5 separate regions of the Homo sapiens genome follow, and regions 1, 3, 4 and 5 are each linked to region 2. Evidence: fine-mapped expression QTL. A gene starts in region 2. Each other region holds a variant in brackets. All regions are shown on one strand. Distances are between the middles of the regions. Region 1 overlaps VOPP1 (VOPP1 WW domain binding protein). Region 2 holds the start of VOPP1 (VOPP1 WW domain binding protein). Region 3 overlaps SEPTIN14 (septin 14). Region 4 has its middle 140 kb from the start of SEPTIN14. Region 5 has its middle 86 kb from the start of LANCL2.

Region 1 (4,148 bases), 79 kb before region 2:
CAGCCCTCCAGGACCCTTGGCTCCCCGCTGTCATCAGAGAGCTCCCTGGCCTGTGTCCTAAGGAAGTCCACACCACCCACCACAGTATGTAGGAGTTTTAGATGGCTAAGGCAATGTTTTACAAGAATTAAGAAACAGCTAATTCATTTTGACCCTGGGATGTCACTTTGGGTGTTATGCACTAAACAGACTACATGTGACCTGTACAAGAATGTCTATTGCTATGGTCTTTGTAAGTATTTGGAATACTAGTAACTGCACAATGAATACTTGTTGAATGCATGAATAAAAGACAAAACATGAGAAAACAAAACAAATTATCAGCAATAATAAAATATCTAAGCAAATTACCATTTAGTAACATAATTAGTATCTAGTCCAGAAGCACTAAAAATGGCAGGGGTATTACCGCTCCTACACAGAAATTTATATGTGAAATAATGTTTAAGGAAAAGGGCAGAGAGCAAATAATACGCTTATACAAACTGCATCATATCACGTGCATATGTGGCACACTGATAACTGTAAGAATATGAGGTGACGGGCGTGCGATATACCTTACATTTGTTATCTGCACAAATGCACAATGGAGCTGGTCATCAGAACTAAAAAAATGAATAACACACCTGAGCGCTCTCTTCTGGCAGTACCCTTTCTGCAGCAGTACCCTTTATAAATGTTGGCAGACGACACACACTGTGGGGAGGAGAGACAAGGACAGGGCTGGCTGACCTGGGCCGGGATTTGGGGGCTGCCTGGTGTAGGACACATTGAAGGCTGGCTCCTCGATCAGCGGCGGGGGGTACATGCGCCTCCGGATGAAGAAGCCGGCTCCGCAGCAGAAAAGCACGCCCATCATCAGAAGGAACCTGAGGAGAGTACAGACGTGAGGGTGGTGCTCCCAGGTGGGGGCCCTGAGGGCTTGGCCCTACAGCTCAAAGGCCTCATGCACTCCTCGGGGGTCCGGGACCAATGACTCCCAAATGCACGAGTCAGAAGGCAAGGGCAGAGCCATGAGGCTCGCACCTCAGACTTGGTCCTCTTGGGCCCATTTTACCCAGGGACATTCCTCTAGTGGATAGCAACAAGTAGATGCTTGACCTGCGGCCTCTGGGACAGCCCCTGGTGAGGCCACCCACCCTGAAAAGCACCGTAAAAGAAAAAGCTCATGCAGTCACTTCCTCGTCCACGGCTCTGACCTCAGCTCGACATTTTAGTTAGAAGAGGAGATGCCATCTAAATCCTGTCTGAAAGCCATGGCCGATCCAGCCTTGGCCTCGCTGTCTGTCTCTGTTTTCCATTCTTCACTGTCAAAGCACCAAGGCAGAGCACATTTATCCTCCAGACCACGTCTCCATTATCACATCAACACCCACAAGGAAACAGAAGTACCCTTCCTGGAGCACACCTTAATTACAGAGAAACTATGGGAATAGAAATACAATCAATGAAAATAGAATCAAGAGAAATACAATCTATCAATAGAAATAAAATACAAACAATAACAGAAGCAGAGCTGAACTCTTTAAGGGTAGCACCTTTGTCCAACCCATCTGTGAATTCTCATTGACTATCACTTCATCAGCATTCAGTAAACGACTGCAGAATGAACACATGAATGGCTTCCTTCCATTCCTCACTTGCACCATACTTTTTGTTTCTAGAAAAAGAGGAGAGTCACTTTGAGAAGAACTAGTAGTAGACAAAACTGGCAAACTGGCAAACTCTTGCCCATCTCTGAACTGAAATTATGAGGGGACCCATGGAACTGTCCAGAAGCCATGCAGACACCCACACGGTGAGGGCACCTGCTGCCCTGTGAGGATGGGCACACAGCAGAG[C/T]GGGTCGCAGTCAGTGGCACTGGTCCACATATAAAAGAAGCTCTTAAGAGCGTACGATAAAGCCTTTGAGAATATTAATGTGATGTCAAGGCCTTCAGCCAGTCCAAAAGTATTTACTGGATAATCTTGGAAGGCTGAGCAGGGAGAAAAGCCAGAGGCACGAGACAGGAATGACTCAGGAAAGACTGAAACTGTGGCCTTTGTCATCTGCCGTCTAATTCATTATTCATTCAGCAAGTCATCTTCAGGTGCCTGCTATGCCCTGTCACCATACTGATCACAGCAATGAGTAGACAGGTGAGGGGCCCCCCGACCCCGCCAACACTGAGCTTACAGAGGAGGGAGACAGATACCAACTTTTACAATTATTTATCTACAACCTGGTAAGTGCTAAAAAAGAAAAATGAGCGATGCAAGAAGAATACTGTGTGTGTGATTGGGTAAAATATACATAAATATAATTTACTATTTTAATCATTTTTAAGTGTATAATTCAGTGCACCAAGAGGTTTGAACAAGGGTATCTGTGGTGGTGAGCAAGACTGGGAACACTGCATTTCTTTTAGTGACAGCTGGGCTGGGCTCTGAAGAATGAGAAGAGACAAGCTGAAGGGGAAGAAGGGGCATTCTGGGTGGAAAGAACACAGAGCAGGTACTGGGGCCGGAGAAGGTGGGAGCAGGAGGCCTGGAGGCTCAGTCCCCATGATGGGCGGAGGGAGCGGCCATGGGGAGCCCGGAGACCCAAACCGTTCAGGAGTGTGGTGATGTAAGGCTTAATGTGCTCGGCATCAAGAACACTCACTAAGTTCCCAAAGGGAACGGCTTCCTCTCCTAAAACCGATTTCCCTCAGGTGGGCTCAGTGACAGTCTTACACTCAGCACTGAGTCCTGCTGTTAGTATCTGGGTAGAAATATACAAAGCACAGAGAGGCTGGATGTGTACAGGGTTTACTTTCTCAGAGCCACTGGCCACTTCCAAGAGACCAGGCTCGCTGGATTGAAAAATGCAGAAGGCACCTGAGATCTTAGTCTTGTCTAAAAAATAAGCTAAAATGTCGGTTCCACTGCCAACAGTAGTAAGAACATTTTGTTTTTCTACACAAAAGGAAATGACATTGCAGCTCCCACCTTAGACTAATGGTGAGCAAGCATAAGGCGAGGCTGGAATGGAGTTACACGGGATCCACTTCATCCCTTACTGAAATCATAGTCTGATAACTTATTCTGTTCATTTATGTTTATTTTAAAAATTTATTTAAAATAATTTTTGGTAGAGACGGAGTCTCACTATGTTGCCGAGTGATCTCAAATTCCTGGCTTCAGTGATCCTCCCACCTTGGCCTCCCAAAGTGCACCATTGTGCTAGGCCAAGAACTTATTTTAAAAGAGAGAAACTAACAAAGGGGCAGGAGAAAGCGCTTCTAAAAACAAGGAAAGAGACGAAGCAGGGTGTTGGCTGGGAGAGAGGAGTAGTAGTAAGAAAGGCAGTTCTTGCAGTGCTGGGGGTACGGGCTGGCTGTTCCCTAGATGTCCTCTTTGGTTGCTCAGCAGGTTTTGGAAGCTTTCAAAGGGATTAAGAGAGGAAGGTTTGTGCCTTTTTTTTAACATTAGAAGTTACCTGGTTACTTTAATTCAATTTGTTTTTTGATTCCTCCCCCCGACCCCCCAGCCCCGAGTGTAGCAGTTCTCAATTCTGCAGTCCCAAGGACTGGTGCAGCTACTGTGCAAGCCCTGCCCAGACCCCACTCAGGACTCCGCATGGGACCCTGCTGTGGACTCACCCACAGTGCCACCTAGGCTAGTTCTCACTCGGGCCCACTGTGCTTTCTGAGTCCACTCAAGGGTGCCATCGGTCCACCTTCTCTACTCTTGATTCCATCCAGACCTCCTTGGTGAAAAGATCCTCAAGATCTTGGAGTTGGCAGGAACTCTGAAGGCATTCTCTTTCAAAACCTTTGTTTTATGGTCAGGAGACACCTTCAAACGTTGTGGGGCCCAGGCAGCAGAGCAGCCCCTCCCTCCCATCCTGCCGCCACTCCTGTCCACCAAATGCTCATCCTCACCACAGAAGCTTCCCATCACCTTTTAACACATCCACTCTTCTTACACTCTGGCCCTGCAAGGTGCTGTCCCTCTGCCCCAAACGCCCTCTCTGACGACCCAGTCAAAAGCTTTGTAGCTTTCTCCAACTTTTCTGGCTTCAGAAGTTCTGTGCTCTGGCTTGAAAGTATCCACACCTCATTATCTGCTTAGACATCATCTTCTTCAGGAGTCTGCCTGCCTAAAGCCTCTCCATAAAACCCCAGC
Region 2 (4,000 bases):
TCTGCCTTTAAGGTCGTTTCAACTTTGCAGACATGATCTGAACTCCTATTAAGAGGATACATTCCTATGCAACGAAACAGCTATTTTGGAAAGAATGGAGTCACTGAGGCCGTCTAGGCTACATATAGGGCACAGAACCACTCAGACAGAAGGCTTGGGAGACATGGGTGGCACAAACTAGAATGAAAGAAACGCTAAATAATTTCATCAAGTGCCGATTAAAAAAGATTGCAGGGCCGGGCGCGGTGGCTCACCTTGTAATCCTAGCACTTTGGGAGGCCGAGGCGGGCGGATCACCTGAGGTCAGGAGTTCGAGACCAGCCTGACCAACATGACGAAACCCCGACTCTACTAAAAATGCAAAAATTAGCCGGGCATAGTGGTGGGCGCCTGTAGTCCCCGCTACTGGGGAGGCTGAAGCAGGAGAATAGCTTGAACCCAGGAGGCGGAGATTGCAGTGAGCCAAGATCGCGCCACAGCACTCAAGCCTGGGCCACAGAACGAGACTCCATCTCAAAACTAAAGAAATAAATAAATAAAAATAAAAAATAAAGATTGCAAGTATAGGTACACACATTAAGGTACAAGCACATCTGTTTTCATGCGATTACTGGTCTCTGATTCACTTCTTTGTTCTCTATGGTGAGTCACTCAGAGAATGTGATTCCTAAGGTTCTAAAATTCTGAATAAATGGAAAGAATGCAAGCAGAGGCACTCCACAAAAACATTAAATACCAAGCTACGGGGATATTTCCGAACAGAAACAGGAAGTCTCGGCTATGGCAGAGCCTGGAGCAAGGAGAAATTTGTCCACCAGCCTTCCTTTCAGGAAACACTTTTCCTCCAACATTTTGTAATAATTACTTTTTAATAAAGGGCGAAGACAAACTAGTAATTTCCAGCACCAATCACTAACTATTAAGGAAGATAGTTTCACAACTTCCTAAAACAGAGGCATGGGATTCATTACCTATTTCTTTTGACTTCATTAATTTAACGCAAATTTCCTTCAGAATAATGAAACTAAGGAGAAAGTTGAACAAGCCCTGATTCAGACTGGACACCCCAGAATTCCTCTAGTTCGCATTTTAAGGAACCTGCTTTAGTGAGAAGTATGTGGCCCCATCCGAGGATGCAATTTCACAGCCAGGAGCAGCCGCGGTCCCCGCCAGGGATGCGGTCACGGGCGCTCGCACCCGGAAGCCGCTCAACAAGTTCCCCGCCGGCTTCGGCTCCGCACCCCCACCCAGCCAGGCTCTCCGCAGAATTTCCTCCCCGCACCTAAAGGCTGCACTTCATTTTCACACGCGGGAACGCCTCCTCCCGCTGCTCACCTCCACAACTCCCGGCACTCCCGCGACACTTCCCCACAGTCCCCTCCGCCCGCTCCCCTCACCCCGGCTCGGCACCCATCCTTTCCTAACCCCAAACTGCCCGGCGCCCCGGGCTCTCCGCGCCTGCGCCGCGCCCGAGGACCACCCCCGCCCAACCCCGGGTCCATCCGATCCTCGGCCCTCTGCGGCGGGGAGAGGGGGCGGACGGTGCACAAAGGTCACCCCGAGCTAACGGAGGCGGTCGGCGCGGGAAACGCGCTCACCCGCAGGGTGGGGGCGGGGTGCGAAAACCGAAGGAACGACGGAAGGCGCGGACCGGGGCGGGAGCCTCCCCGTCACCAGGGTCCCGCACCTCCCAGCTCCGGGAGGCGCGCAGGGCTGTGGCTCCCCGTCGCTCCACCGTCTGCGCTCCCAGGCAAGGTCCTCTGGGGCGCCTCGGAACTGCGCGCCCCCAGCCGCCAGCATGGTGGGCGCCGCGCCTCCGGCAGCACCCGGTCCCCGGCCCCTACCTCCAAGAGCAGCCCGAGCAGCAGCGCCGCCACCTTCGCAGGCTGGCGCCTCATGGCTCCTCGCGTCCTCTCCAGCGCGCCCGGACGCCGGGTCGCAGGCGCGCTTCGCGACTCGGCCCCCGCGCGGGGCGGGCGGGCAGACTGCAGCCGGGAGCCGTCCCGCCGACCGCTGGGGGGCCCGGCTGGGAGCGGGCGGGAGCCGGGGCGCGCCGCGCAGCCCTGGCTGCGCTCCGCCCCCGGCCGCCGCGCGCTCCCGACACGCCCGGCCGGGCGCGCGCCTGCGGGCTCCCGGAACCCGAGGCCCGGCCTGGGGCGCGGCTGCTGGGCGCTAGGCCCGCGACGCTGAGGTGCGCGCGCCCCGGGCGGGAGGAGGGGCTGCACCGCCTGGCGAATGGGAGGGGGACTGGCAGGCTCTCCCTTCCCAAGGGAGGTCGTCCTGTCGCCCTAGACTAAACCCAGGAAGGCTTTTAAAAGAAGCAGAGTCTCCGCGGGGGGAAGCTTGTTCCCTGAGAGGTGGCCGCAGACGAACCCACTGCTCAGTCTGGCATCCCGAAGCCGCTCCGCTCCTGGCTCTCCCCGCTGTTCCTGCGCGCAGCGGGGGCAGTGCCCCCACACCCACGCGTGATGGGAAGGCCGGCCTGGGGGTGGGAAGGCCCACCGAAATAGATGGTCCCCACACCTCACTGCTTCCTTGGATGTGGCTATTTTTTATGCCAGTGTTCTCCTGCTCTGACCCTACTTGAACTTGACCGCAACCGGCCCCGCCTTGCAGGCCACCCTCCCGCAGCAGAAAACTGTGCGGAGCTCGCGCTGTCCTCGCCTCCGCTGACCCCACCTCCATGTCCTCACAGACACTATTTTTTCACAACACAGCTCAGATCCCACCTTCTTCATGAGGTTATTCAACAAACACTATTAAACTTGTAAGATGTACCAGATCCTGAGTTGGAGGCTGAGAGGAGGACAAGAAAACTGCTCCCGTAGCCTAGAGGGAGGGAGAGTCGCTTAAACCACCTGATGCAGAATGCTGAGTGCGGAGACCAGGAGGTGGGTGCATCACAGAGGGTCATAAAGGACATGAGCTGCGCAGTACAGGAGGTGGAAGGAGGGGGTCACACGAACAGATGTCACCCGAGGCAAGTCCCCAACTCTTTCCCAGCTTTCAAAGCCTAATTTGATTAATATAGAGCATGCACCACCTGACTATACCTGTCAGAGCCAGAACTTACAAGTAAGACAGAAACAATGCCTATGGCCTTCAGTCATGCTAAGGCACCTATCTGACAAGCCTGCCAAACGCCATTGAACTCTAGTAGTTTTACTATTTACAATGAGGACATTTTACAACTCTTTTTAATGGAAAAGTTAACTTGTAGAAAACTAAGCTGAAAGCTTATTGTGTGTTAGCAAGACAAATGTTTTTCCAGTGGGGATAGAAGTGATCTCGTCCTGTAAAAATGCAAATGGGCCAGGCAGGGTGGCTCATGCCTATCATCCCAGCAGTCTGGGAAGCTGAGGTGTGAGAATTGCTTGAGCCCAGGAGTTCACCAACCCCAACCTGGGCAACACAGCAAGAACCTGTCTCCATTAAAACGTGTGTGTGTGTGTGTGTGTGTGTGTGTATAAGACAAATGACCCCTGCTTAAGGTGAGAATCATAACCAGCTTCCTATCTGATTGAGCCACTTCATTCCCAGCGTTTCCTTTCTCTTTTCTCCCCGCTTTTGACTGTGTGTGTAGGTCACTTGCCTGCATTCTCCTTTGAAGCACCTTTGTCATCCCACTGTTTCCATCATTAATGGGTTAAAATGGAACTTTGACTTGTGTCCACGATGTATTCGTGTGCAAATTGTGGTTCTGTTGCATTGTGAGCAACCTACTAGTGTCTGACATAACCTCCCTTCTGCATCTCTCTCTGCCTGGAAGATTGTTTTGCTGAGCTCGACTTCCTGTAATTTGTGCAAGTTTTTTTCCAAGAATAAAATTAGAACTGTGACTCTGCTTTCACCTCAGTCTGATACCTCTCCTGTGTGCTCTCTGTTTGGTCCTGAATGATGTGGTGGTTGCTTGGCATGGTTGGAGGATGGGGTGTAGGCTAACCAGCCAGGCTGTTTCCTTGAGCACAAATTATAAGGGCATCAGATACCACTGAAAAAG
Region 3 (4,148 bases), 240 kb after region 2:
ATTTCCATATCATAAGATGTAAAAACCAAGGCACAATACTTAAGATCAGAGTATATAGACAGTATATGTAAAGAATACTAGAATTTTCCAACACTTATATGAGTGAATTCTTATCCCCACCACTTTCCAGGATATCATACATTTTCATATCTTTTGACAATAACATTCAGGGAAACCTCTAATGTATGAGACGATTTTCAAAAATCCTCTAAAATAAAGCAAAAAGTCTTTCAAAATATCATCATTCATTTAAGATAGTTAAATTTTGGGTGTCTACAAAGAACAATGAATGATATAACTAGATTATATACACTACAGTGCCATGTTTTTGCAACACAAGTCCTATTCTTCTTTTTTTTTTGAGACAGAGTCTCTCTTTGTCGCCCAGACTGGAGTGCAGTGGCACGATCTCAGCTCACTGCAATCTCTGCTGCCCAGGTTCAAGCGATTCTCCTGCCTCAGCCTCCCGAGTTAACTGGGATTACGGGCACCCGCCACCACGCCCAGCTAATTTTTTTTGTATTTTTAGTAGGGACGGAGCTTTACCATGTTGGCCAGGCTGATCTTAAACTCCTGACCTCAGGTAATCTGCCTGTCTCGGTTTCCCAAAGTGCTGGGATTACAGGCGGGAGCCACTGCACCCGGCTCTATTCTTCAAGTTAGAGCAAACACCTGCTCTCAAACTTTTCTCATTTAACTTCCAGGATGCTGCACTACTGCTTTTCAGCTGGTTCCTCCATCAAACTCTTCTTAATGTCTTTTGTCAAACTTTGCTAATATTTTTCCATCTTTTTCTTTATCCTTTCTTTTTTTTTCTTTTTTTTTTTAAGATGGAGTCTTGCTCAGTCCGCCACGCTGGAAGTGCAGTGAGGTGATCTCAGCTCACTGCAACCTCCGCCTCCAGGGTTCAAGCGATTCTCCTGCCTCAGCCTCCCAAGTGGCTGGGATACAGGCGTGTGCCACCATGCCCGGCTACTTTTTGTATTTTTAGTAGACACAGGGTTTTACCATGTTGGCCAGGCTGCTCTCAAATACCTGACCTTAGATGATCCGCCCGCCTCAGCCTCCCAAAGTGCTGGGATTACAGGCATGAGCCACAGCGCCCGGCCTATCCTTTCTTTCACATAATACAGATACATTTCATATAAATACAAAAAATGGAACAAAATACTGGGTTTTTTCATCAATATACATTTCAGCATATATACATATTGAATACACATATTTCAGCATAAAAATGAGATCTCGCATTATATTGTTCCTACTATCTCTACCTTCGTCAAAAGATCATAAAAACACCTAACATTCAGGTGTTTTCTTTATGATGGCTCAAGATGGGAGAAGTATAATTATTCTCATATCCAAATTATCATACCTTGTGTTTGTAGGGACTCCTAAATTATCCATTTGGTTGTGCTAGCAATATTTTTACTCACCTAACTGGCTGGTTGTTTGGACCCACATCTGTAAAGCCCATTTTCTGCAGTTTTTGGTACCTATAACATTCATAGTGCTGAGTGTGGGTTTTTTCTTTTAGATTTTCCATATTGGTACAAAGAAGCATATCTCGGAGCTTAACGAAGTCACAGTGATTTTCATTTTCCACTAGTAAAAAAATAATAATGAATCAACAACATTCAGTATCAATCCCTGACAATCAGTAAGTGTTCATGAATGAATACATGAATAAAAAACACATTTAAAATAACACACAACTGAACAATTTGATTAATAGCTATAATTCTTTTAAGCATGTAAGTGTGGTTGTACTATACATACCAACCATAGGCAGAGATTATTTATAGGTTAGCAAATTTGCTTTAAACTTATTACCTGAAGAATAAGCAGGAAATAGTGAAATAATATTTTATGTGCATATATGCCATAGGTTTTTATTAACAATTGTGTAGTATGTTATAAACTACCTCTGGGTATTTTGGAGTGCTAACAGAATATGTAATATAACATCACTAGTGTAAATAATTTTATCAGAGTAAATTCTGCTAGCAAAAAGGCCTTACAATTGAAAATACTTTAGTTACATATTTCCATTTATATATCATATTTAGGAGACACCGTTAGTCAATATTCAAAATCAATCAACAAATTCACATAGCTGTTTTAATGATACATACAGACTGACAGTGAAGACACGGAAAGATATTTCATGCAATTAGAAACTAAAAGAGAAGGCACGGAAAGCTATACTCCTATCACAGAAGATAGACTTTAAGTCAAAAACTGTAAAATGATATAAAGAAGGTCATCATATCATGATGAAGAGGTCAGTTCATTAAAAAAATAACAA[T/C]TGTAAATATATATGCACCCAATATCACAACTTCTAAATATATAAGGCAAATATTAGCAGACCTGAGGGGGAGATAGACTGTATTACAATAATAGTAAGGGACTTAGATACCCTACTTTCAGCAATGGATAGATTATCCAGACAGAATATCAGTAAGAAAATATCAGATTTAAACTACACTTTAGACCAAATAGACCTAATGGACATATGTGGAATATTTCATCCAACAGCAAAGTAATACCCATTTTTCTCAAACAAACACAAGACATTCTTCAGGATAGATCATATGTTAGGCCACAAAATAAGTCTTAACATATTTTAAAAGACTGAAATAAAAATGTGAGTGCACATGTCTTTTGACAGATCAATTTCATTCCACTAGGGTACATACCCAGTAGTGGTACTGCTGGATCATACAGTAATACTATTTTTAGTTTTTGAGGAACCTTCATATTATTTCCCAAAATGGCTGTACCAACTTAAATTCCCACCAATGATGTTTAAGAATTCCCTTTTTTCTTAGAAATATATATACACTGCTGGTGGGAATATAAATTAGTTCAGCCATTGTGAAAAGTAGTTTGATAATTTCTTTTTTTCTTTTTTTGAGACAGAGTTTCGCTTTTGTCACCCAGGCTGGAGTGCAGCAGTGCGACCTCAGCTCACTGCAACCTCCGCCTCCTGGGTTCAAGTGATTCTCCAACCTCAGCCTCTCAAGTAGCTGGGATTACAGAAGTCCACCACCAGGCCCAGCTAATTTTTGTATTTTTAGTAAAGATGGAGTTTCACCATGTTGACCAAGATGGTTTCGAACTCCTGACCTCAGGTGATCCACTCTCCTCAGCCTCCCAAAGTGCTGGGATTACAGGCATGAGCCACCACGCTCGGCCTGACAATTTCTTAAAGAAGTTAAAACAGAACTACCATTTGACCCAGTAATCCCATTACCAGGTTTATATCCAAAGGAATATATATTGTTCTATCATAAAGACACAGGCACGTGTATGTTCATTGCAGCACTATTCACAATAACAAAGACATAGAATCAATCTAAATGCCCATCAATGGTAGACTGGATAGAGAAAATGAACATATACACTATGGAATACTACACAGCCATAAAAAAAGAACAAGATCGTGTCCTTTGCAGCAACATGAATGGAGCTGAAGCCATTATCCTAAGTGATGTAATGCAGGAACAGAAAACCAAATACCACATACTCTCATTTATAAGTAGGAGATAAATATTGAGAACACATAGACACAAAGGGGAGAACAACAGACACTGGGGCCTCCTTGAGGGTGGAGGGTGGGAGGAGAGTGAGGACAGAAAAGCTACTATGCTTACTTTTTTTTTTTTTTTTTTTTTTGGTTAGTATATGTGCTGCTAAAGTGAGCAATTTTTTTTTTTTGAGATGGAATCTCGCTCTGTTGCTGAGGCTGGAGTGCAATGGCACGATCTCGGCTCACTGCAACCTGCACTTCCTGGGTTCAAGTGATTCTCCTGCTTCAGCCTCTTAAGTAGCTGGGATTACAGGAGCGCGCCACCACACCTGGCTAATTTTTGTATTTTTTAGTAGAGACGGGGTTTTGCCATGTTGGTCAGGCTAGTCTTGAACTCCTGAACTCAGGTGATCCACGTGCCTCAGCCTGCCAAAGTGCTGGGATTACAGACTCAAGCCACTGCTCCAGCCAGTACTATGCTAATTATCTCTGTGATGAAATAATCTTTTACACCAAACCCCCATGACATGCAATTTATCTATATAACAAATTTGCACATGTACCCCTGAACCTAAAATAAAAATTAAAAAAAAAAAAAAAAGAATTCTCTCTTCTC
Region 4 (4,148 bases), 150 kb after region 2:
TTCACTCCAGTCTGGGCGACAGAGCAAGACTCTGTCTCTAAAAAAAGAAAGAAAGAAAGAAATTAAAGAGGACACAAATAAATGGAAAGACATTTCTCGTTCATGGATGGGAAGACTTAATATGGCTAAGATGTCCACACTAACCAAAGCAATCTATTGATTCAATGCGATTCCTACCAAAATCCTGATGGCATTTTTTGCAGAAATAGAAAAAAAAAAAACTAAACTAAAATTCATACGGATTTTTTTTTTTTTTTGAGATAGAGTCTCACTCTGTCACCCAGGCTAGAGTGCAGTGGTGCAATCTCGGCTCACTGCAACTTCTGCTTCCCGGGTTCAAGCAATTCTGCCTCAGCCTCCTGAGTAGCTGGGATTACAGGGGCCCGCCACCATGCCTGGCTAATTTTTGTATTTTTAGTAGAGACAGGGCTTCACCATGTTTGCCAGGCTGGTCTTGAACTCCTGACCTCAGGTGATCAGACTGCCTCGGCCTCCCAAAGTGCTGGGATTACAGGTGTGAGCCATGGTGCCTGGCCTTGGAATCTTGAAGGACTCTAAAGAGCCAAAACAATCCTGAGAAAGAAGAACAAAGCTGGAGGCCTCACACTTCCTGATTTTGAAACATATTATGAAGCTATCATAATCAAGGCAGCATGGTACTGACCCAAATACAGACACATAGACCAATAGATCAAAATAGCCCAGAAATAAACTTTTGCCTATATGGTCAAATGATCTTTGACAAGGGCTAAGGCTACACAGTGGGTAAGGATGGTCTCTTCAATAAACGGTGCAGGGAAAATTGGATCTCCACATGCAAAAGAATAAAGTTGGAGATTCTTACTTTATACCATAGGAAACAATCAATTCAAAATGGATTAAATGCATAAATATAAGATCCAAAACTATAAAACTAGGAAAAAAACACAAGGGAAAAGCATCATGACATTGGATTGGATATGACACCAAAAGCACAGGTAACAAAAACAAAAACAGACAAAGGGGACTTTGTCAAACTTTAAAACTCTGAACAGCAAAGAAAACAATCAACAGAGTAAAAAGGCAACCTAAAAAATGGGAGAAAATGTTTGCAAACCTCATATATGATAAGGGATTAATATCTAGAATATATAAAGAACTCCTAAAACTCAACGACCACAAAATAATCCAATTTTAAAATGAGCAAAGGGATTGAATGAATATTTCTCCAAAGAAGATATACAAATGGCCAACAAGCATATGAAAAGATGCTACACATCACTAAACAGCAGAGAAATGCAAATCAAAAACCACAATGCAGGCCAGGCATGGTGGCTCACGCCTGCAATCCCAGCACTTTGGGAGGCTGAGGTGGGTGGATCACCTGAGGTCAGGAGTTCAAGACCAGCCTGGCCAACATGGCAAAACCCCGTCTCTACTAAAAATACAAAAATTAGCCAGGCATGGTGGCATATGCCTGTAATCCCAGCTACTCGGGGGGCTGAGGCAAAACCCCGTCTCTACTAAAAATACAAAAATTAGCCAGGCATGGTGGCATATGCCTGTAGTCCCAGTTACTCGGGGGACTGAGGCAGGAGAATTGCTTGAACCTAGGAGGCAGAGGTTGCAGTGAGCTAAGAT[C/T]ACGCCATTGCACTCCTGCCTGGGTGACAAAAGTGAAACTCTGTCTCAAAAAAAAAAAAAGAAGGAAAAAGAAAACCGCAATGCAATATTACCTCACACACACTTGTTAGAATGGCCACTATCAAAAAACTGGAAAATAAAAAGTGATGGAGAGGATATGGAGAAATTGGAATCTTTGTGCACTTTGATGGGAATGCAAAATGTACTTGCTCTAGAAAATGGTCTGTAGGCTCCTCAAAAAATTAAAAATAGAAGTACTGTATGATCTAGCAATCCTATCTCTTGGTGTATACCCAAAAGAACTGAAAACAGAATCAGGCCGAACGCAGTGGCTCATGCCTGTAATCCAAGGTTGAAGCTTGAGTCCAAGAGTTCAAGACCAGCCTAGGCAACCTGGTGAAACACCATCTTTACAAAAACACAAAAATTAGCCATGTGTGGTGGTGCACAGGTACTGTAGTCCCAGGTACTCGGGAGGTTGAAGTGAGAGGATCACTTGAGCTCAGGAGGTCAAGGCTGCAGTAAGCTGTGATCATGCCACTGCACTCGACCCTGGGCAACAGAACAAAAGACTCTGTCTAAGCCGGGCGCGGTGGCTCACGCCTGTAATCCCAACACTTTGGGAGGCTGAGGCGGGCGGATCACCTGAGGTCGGGAGTTAGAAACCAGCCTGACCAACACGGAGAAACCCTGTCTCTACTAAAAATACAAAAATCAGCTGGGCATAGTGCTGGGTGCCTGTAATCCCAGCTACTCAGGAGGCTGAGGCAGGAGAATCACTTGAACCTGGGAGGCGGAGGTTGCGATGAGCTGAGATCGCACTACTGTACTCCAGCCCAGGCACTAAGAGCGACACTCTATCCCAAAAAACAAAACAAAACAAAAAAACCACTCTGTCTAAACTAAAACAAAAACAAAACCACAACAACTCAGATATTTGCACACACATGTTCAACTCAGCACGATTTACAATAGCCAAAAGCTAGAAGCAATCTAAATGTCCATAGACAAATAAATGGATAAAAAATATGTGGTATACACACACAATGAAATATTATTCCGCCTTAAAAAGGAAGGAAATCCTATCACATGCTACAATATGGATGAACCTTGAGGACATTACGTAAAGTGAAATAAGCCAGTCACAGAAAGACAAATACTGCATGATTCCACGAATTATATGAGGTATCTAAAGTAGTTAAACTCATAGAAACAGAAAGTGGAATGTTGTTATCAGCGGACAAGGAAGAGGGAAAAATGAAGAGAAGTTGTTCAGTGGGCATAAAGTTTCAATTTTGCAGGATGGAAAAATTCTAGAGATATATTGCACAACAGTGTGAATATAGCTAACACTATTATACAGTTCAAAGTGGTTACAATGGTAAATTTGATGGTTTTTTTAAAGTAATAACAGAGTGGGTGTGTGCAAAGGTGTGTACAGAACACAGCAAAACACAAGGGATAGTACCTCTGTGGCTGGGTGGGGAATGCTGCTATCACACCTGAGCTTGAATGACAGAGACAGAGAGGGCAGCTAGGGGCTACCTGACAGAACTGGGCCCTTTAGTTTAGGGCCACAATCCATGGTGACCCTACAGACAGGAAGCCAGAGGAATACATACCTTCACCTCACTCTCTTCCCTCGCTTTGAACATCTGATGCCTGATAGGGTTTGGATCTGTGTCCATGCCAAATCTCATGTTGAAATGTAATCCCCAGTGTTGGAGGTGGGGCCTGGTGGGAGGGCTTAGCGCCATCCCCTCGGTGATGAATGAGTTCAGAGATCTGCTTGTTTAAAAGTGTGTGGCACCTCCCACCCTCTCTCTCTTGCTCCTGCTCTTGCCATGTGAGATGTCTGCTCCCCTTTTCCCTTCCACCATGACTATAAATCTCCTGAGGTCCTCACCAGAAGCTGACGACAGCATGCAATGCTTCCTGTACAGCCTGCAGAACTGTGAGCCAATTAAACCTCTTTTCTTATAAATTACCCAGCCTTGGGTATTTCTCTCCAGTGATGCAGGAATGGCTTATCACAATGTCCCAATGGCTGAACCCAACCAAAGCCAGAAGACAAAGGGTCATTAATGTAACCCATACTATGCACATGTAGTCCATACATGTCAGCCTCCCAGAGCAAAAAGCAAATGGAACAGGTGAAGGGTGGACCTAGAAAGGCAAATGGAAACCACCTAGCACATCCAACACCCTCCTTTCCTCTCCACCAGCTTGTTTTTGTCCCCTTCCATCACTGCCCCAGGGGAGTGATGGGAAAGTTGTCTGTAGCACCCTCTGATGATGCTCTTTAAAATTATTAACCCAAGGACCACTAAGACAAGAGACATCATAGTCAACACACTAAACTGCCTACACAAAAGCTCACATTATATTGGCAACACATTACTTGAGATAAATAACTATCCTCATGGCTATATTCTTTTTTTTTTTTTTTTGAGATGGCGTCTCACTGTCACCAAGGCTGGAGTGCAGTGGCACGATCTTGGCTCACTGCAACCTCTGCCTCTCATGTT
Region 5 (4,148 bases), 120 kb before region 2:
CTGAAGGTTGGACGAAAAGCTGCCCCTCCCTGTGACTGGCTGGGGTCACCTGGAAGGAGCCAGCTGAGCTCCGACCAGGTTCCTGCAGAGGCGTTCTGGCCACCGAGCCTGTCCTGGGAGAGGAGAGCAGCGAGCAGCCTGGCCTCCCGAGGGGACAGGAGCCCTCCACCCCCGCACTGTGCCCTCTACCGCCCCTGCCTCGGTAGGTCCTGCCACCCTCCTGCGGCCCCTGCAGCCCCTCAACACGCCTACTTCTGGGCATCAGGGATGTCACTGGTGCCAGAGGTCCCAGAGACCTTTAAGTACAAACCTGTCACCCTTGAGGGGAGAAACAAACATGTCACCCTTGAGGCGTAGCACCCAGGTGGTCAGCAGACCTTTGGAAATGCGGTTGGATGAGAAGCCAGGATTTCTGCCCTCTGTCCGCATCTTACATTTCTGTGCACCCACACTGACAAGGATGGTAATAAAGAAAAAGACGAGCAACGATTGCATTTCACCTACTTCCATTTGCTGAGAACATCTCACTCCTTCCAGGGACCCCTGAGCTTCCCCTTGGGAGTTGGAGTCACCGACTTGTGGCTGGGGGCACATTTCGGGCAGGAGACCTCAGGCTGGTCCTAGTGTTACCTCCCCGACCTGGGGGTGTTCTTGAGGTCCCACCAGTCCTCCGCCTCTTCTCTTGGGTGTCCCCAGCAGCACCTGGATGCCATTTCAGGGCTGACCACCCAGCACTGGAACTTGTGTAACCACCCAGAACCCAGGAGCTGGGCATTTCCCTATGCACTCTGGTTCTGCACTGTCCAGTAAATCACTCACCAGCGCTACCAGCTCTTATAGCCCTTGAAATGTGGCCACTCCAAGTGGAAGTGTGCATTGAGTATGTGTTATACAAACTGGATTTTGAATATGGAAAAAAGTAACATTTCTCACTCACATACTTTTATATCATTACATGTTGAAATAATACTTTGATATATTAGGCTGAATATCATTAAAATAATTTTTTTGATTAATCTTTGTAATGAAAATTTAAAGCAATGCACTGGTTCACATCATACCTTTAGTGGACAGCACTGGTAAAGAATATACATCTAAAAGCTTTTCCCCACGTAAGCTTTAAAGTAAGATGCAAAATTCCTTTCTTCTACAAAAACATGAAGGATTGTCATTGGTAAGGGCTGCGCCCAGGCAGTTTTCACAGGTACACACTTGTTATCAATCTTCTGTTCCCATGTGCACTGAATACTAGGTCTGTGGCAAATGATATCAGCACTGTTTGTGATTTCTGGAGTCCAGGGAGAAAGACAAAGAGAGTGCTCTCCAACATTCCTGTCACTGTTGAAAACAGACCAAGCCACGTTGCTCCTCCTTCATTATACTCTTGAGACCTGCACAAGAACATACATCTTTTTTTGTAAAAGTGAAGCCTGGATCTTCAGGGCTGGCATCAGAGGGAGATCTCCTAGGGAGGAGATTCAACAGGACTCAAATCTAATTCCCTTCACCTTCTTCTTGCGGGTAGGGGGTGTCTTGACAATCATCCTTGCACCCACCACACCATTTATAGGAGGGCACTGGGCCCCTTCCACACAGGCACAGGAGTGGAACGAGATCCTTTCTGGACACTTCCGCACAGCCCATCTGAGACAGGAACATTACAATAAAAAGTTATGGGGTAGGGGGCAAAAGAAACGCCTGAAGTACAGGAATACCTGGGAAATGTTGCAGGTTCAGTTCCAGAACACCATAATTAAGTGAACATTGCAATAAAGTTTGAGTCATACAAATTTTTGGTTGCCCACTACATATAGAAGTTGTTTACATTATACTGTAGTCTATGAAGTGCACAACAGCATTATGTCTAAAAGCCACAATGTACATAGCTTCATTAAAAAATACTTTATTGTGGCCGGATGTAGTGGCTCACGCCTGTAATCCCAGCACTTTGGGAGGCAGAGGCGGGCGGATCACAAGGTCAGGAGTTTGAGACCAGCCTGGCCAATATGGTGAAACCCCCGTCTCTACTAAAAATACAAAAATCAGCTGGGCGTGCTGGCGGGTGCCTGTAGTCCCAGCTATTCAGGAGGCTGAGGTAGGAGAATCACTTGAACCCAGGAGGCAGAGATTGCAGTGAGCCAAGATCGTGCCGCTGCACTCCAGCCTGGGCGACAGAGCGAGACTCTGTCTAAAAACAAACAAAAAAGCTTTATTGCTAAAAATGCTAACGGTTATCTGGGCTTTCAGTGGGTCATAATCTTTTTGCTGGTGGAGGGTGTTTTCCCAGTGTTGACGGCTGCTAACTGATCAGGGTGGTAGTTGCTAAAGGTTGGACTGGCTGTGGCAATTTCTTAAA[A/G]TAAGACAACAATGAAGTCTGCCGCATTGATTGACTTTATTTCAGGAAAGATTTCTCTGTAGCATGCGACGCTGTTTGACAGAATTTTACCAATAGTAGGACTTCTTTCAAAATTGGAGTTAAACCTCTCAAACCCTGCCACTACTTTACCAACTAAGTTTATGATATATTCTGAATCCTGTGTTGTAATTTCAACAATATTCACAGCATCTTTAGTAGGAGTAGATTCCATTTCAAGAAACCACCTTCTTCACTCATCCATAGGAAGAAATACCTCATCCATTAAAGTTTTACCATGAGATTGTAGCAATTCAGTCACAACTTCAGGTTCCACTTCGAATTATATTTCTCTTGCTATTTCCACCACATCCACAGTTATTTCCTCCACTGATGTCTTGAACCCCTCCATGAAGGGGTTCAAGTCATCCATAAGGTTGGAATCAACTTCTCCCAAGCTCCTGTTAATGTTGGTATTTTGACTGCCTCCCATGAATCACAAATGTTCTTAACAGCATCTAGAATAGTAAATCCTTTCCAGAAGGTTTTCAATTTACTTTGCCCAGATCCATGAGAGGAATCACTATCTATGACAGCTATAGCCTTACAAAATGTATGTCATAAACAATAAGACTTGAAAGTCAAAATGACTCCTTGATCCATGGGCTGCAGAATGAATGTGTGTTAGCAGGCATGAAAACAACAATAATCTTCTATGTCTCCATCAGAGCTCTTGGGTGATTAGGTCTTTTGTCAATAAGCAATAATATTTTAAAAGGAATCGTTTTTGCTGAGAAGCAGTGCGCTTAAAACACTAAGCTAACCATGCTGTAAAAAGATGTGTTGTCATCCAAGCTTTGTTGTTCCATTTATAGGATAAAGGCAGAGTAGATTTTGCATAATTCTTAAGGGCCCTAGGATTTTTAGAATGATAAACGAGCACTGGCTTCAACTTAGCTCACCAACTATATTAGCCCCTAACTAGAGGGTTAGTCTGTCCTTTGAAGCTTTAAAGACAAGCGCTGACTTTTCCTCTCAAGCTACAAAGTCCTAGATGGCATCTTCTTCCAGTAGAAGGCTGTTTTGTCTACATGTAAACTCTGTTGTCGAGTGTAGCCACCCTCCTCAGTGGTCTTAGCTAGATCTTCTGCATTACTTGCTGCAGCTTCTACATCAGCACTTTCTGCTGCACCCTGTACTTCCAAGCTATGGAGATGACTTCTTTTCTTAAACCACATAAACCAACCTCTGCTAGCTTCAAACTTTTTTTCTGCAGTTTCCTCACCTCTTTCAGCCTCCATAGAATTGAAGACTATATCAGCATTGTGTGTCACTGGAATAGCGCTTTTAATTTCCTTCAAGAACTTTTCCTTTGCATTCACAAGTTGGCTACCCGGTGCAAGAGGCCTAGCTTTCAGCCTGTTTCAGCTTTTGACATGCCTTCCTTACTAGACTTAATCATTTCTAGCTTTTGATTTAAAATGAGTGACATACAACTCTTCCTTTCACTTGAACACTTATAGGCCATTGTAGGGTTACTAACTAGCCTAATTTCATTATTGTTTGTTGTGTGTCAGGGAAGAGAGTGGGAAAGAGATGAGGGAATGGAGGGTAAGGCAGTCAGAATACACGTTTATTGATTAAGTACACCATCTTGTATAGGCAGAGTTATTGGCACCCTATAGTACAACACTAACATCAAATATCACTGATCACAGATCACCATAACAGTTATTTATTAATGAAAAAGTTTGAAATATTATGTGAATTACCAAATGAGACATAGAGATAAAAA

What was found. PIP is the estimated chance that this variant, and not a neighbour inherited with it, causes the effect. A credible set is the group of variants that fine-mapping cannot tell apart.
Region 1: its variant is the best candidate, but not a certain one, in a credible set for the expression of VOPP1 in lung (TOPMed, PIP 0.58).
Region 3: its variant is the best candidate, but not a certain one, in a credible set for the expression of VOPP1 in whole blood (TOPMed, PIP 0.64).
Region 4: its variant is the best candidate, but not a certain one, in a credible set for the expression of VOPP1 in whole blood (INTERVAL, PIP 0.65).
Region 5: its variant is the best candidate, but not a certain one, in a credible set for the expression of VOPP1 in whole blood (INTERVAL, PIP 0.60).

What each region holds. Positions count from the first base shown.
Region 1 is chr7:55,491,550-55,495,697 of GRCh38, forward strand. VOPP1 (VOPP1 WW domain binding protein) reads right to left here. Exons shown (of 5, transcript NM_030796.5): 4 at 733-869. Among named protein-coding and RNA genes, the nearest start is that of VOPP1, 79 kb to the right of the region's middle. RefSeq lists an enhancer at 1,525-2,724. The variant C/T (reference allele first, on the strand shown) is at 1,842.
Region 2 is chr7:55,570,427-55,574,426 of GRCh38, forward strand. It overlaps VOPP1 (VOPP1 WW domain binding protein), which reads right to left and starts at 2,076. Exons shown (of 5, transcript NM_030796.5): 1 at 1,845-2,076. The coding sequence starts at 1,898. It overlaps VOPP1-DT (VOPP1 divergent transcript), which reads left to right and starts at 2,340. Exons shown (of 17, transcript NR_187585.1): 1 at 2,340-2,891. RefSeq lists enhancers at 1,070-1,129, 3,459-3,538, 3,869-4,000 and a silencer at 1,330-2,309.
Region 3 is chr7:55,805,654-55,809,801 of GRCh38, forward strand. SEPTIN14 (septin 14) reads right to left here. Exons shown (of 10, transcript NM_207366.3): 8 at 1,437-1,605. Among named protein-coding and RNA genes, the nearest start is that of SEPTIN14, 55 kb to the right of the region's middle. The variant T/C (reference allele first, on the strand shown) is at 2,309.
Region 4 is chr7:55,717,598-55,721,745 of GRCh38, forward strand. No RefSeq gene overlaps it. Among named protein-coding and RNA genes, the nearest start is that of SEPTIN14, 140 kb to the right of the region's middle. The variant C/T (reference allele first, on the strand shown) is at 1,621.
Region 5 is chr7:55,449,600-55,453,747 of GRCh38, forward strand. It overlaps a transcript of VOPP1 not described here. Among named protein-coding and RNA genes, the nearest start is that of LANCL2, 86 kb to the left of the region's middle. The variant A/G (reference allele first, on the strand shown) is at 2,357.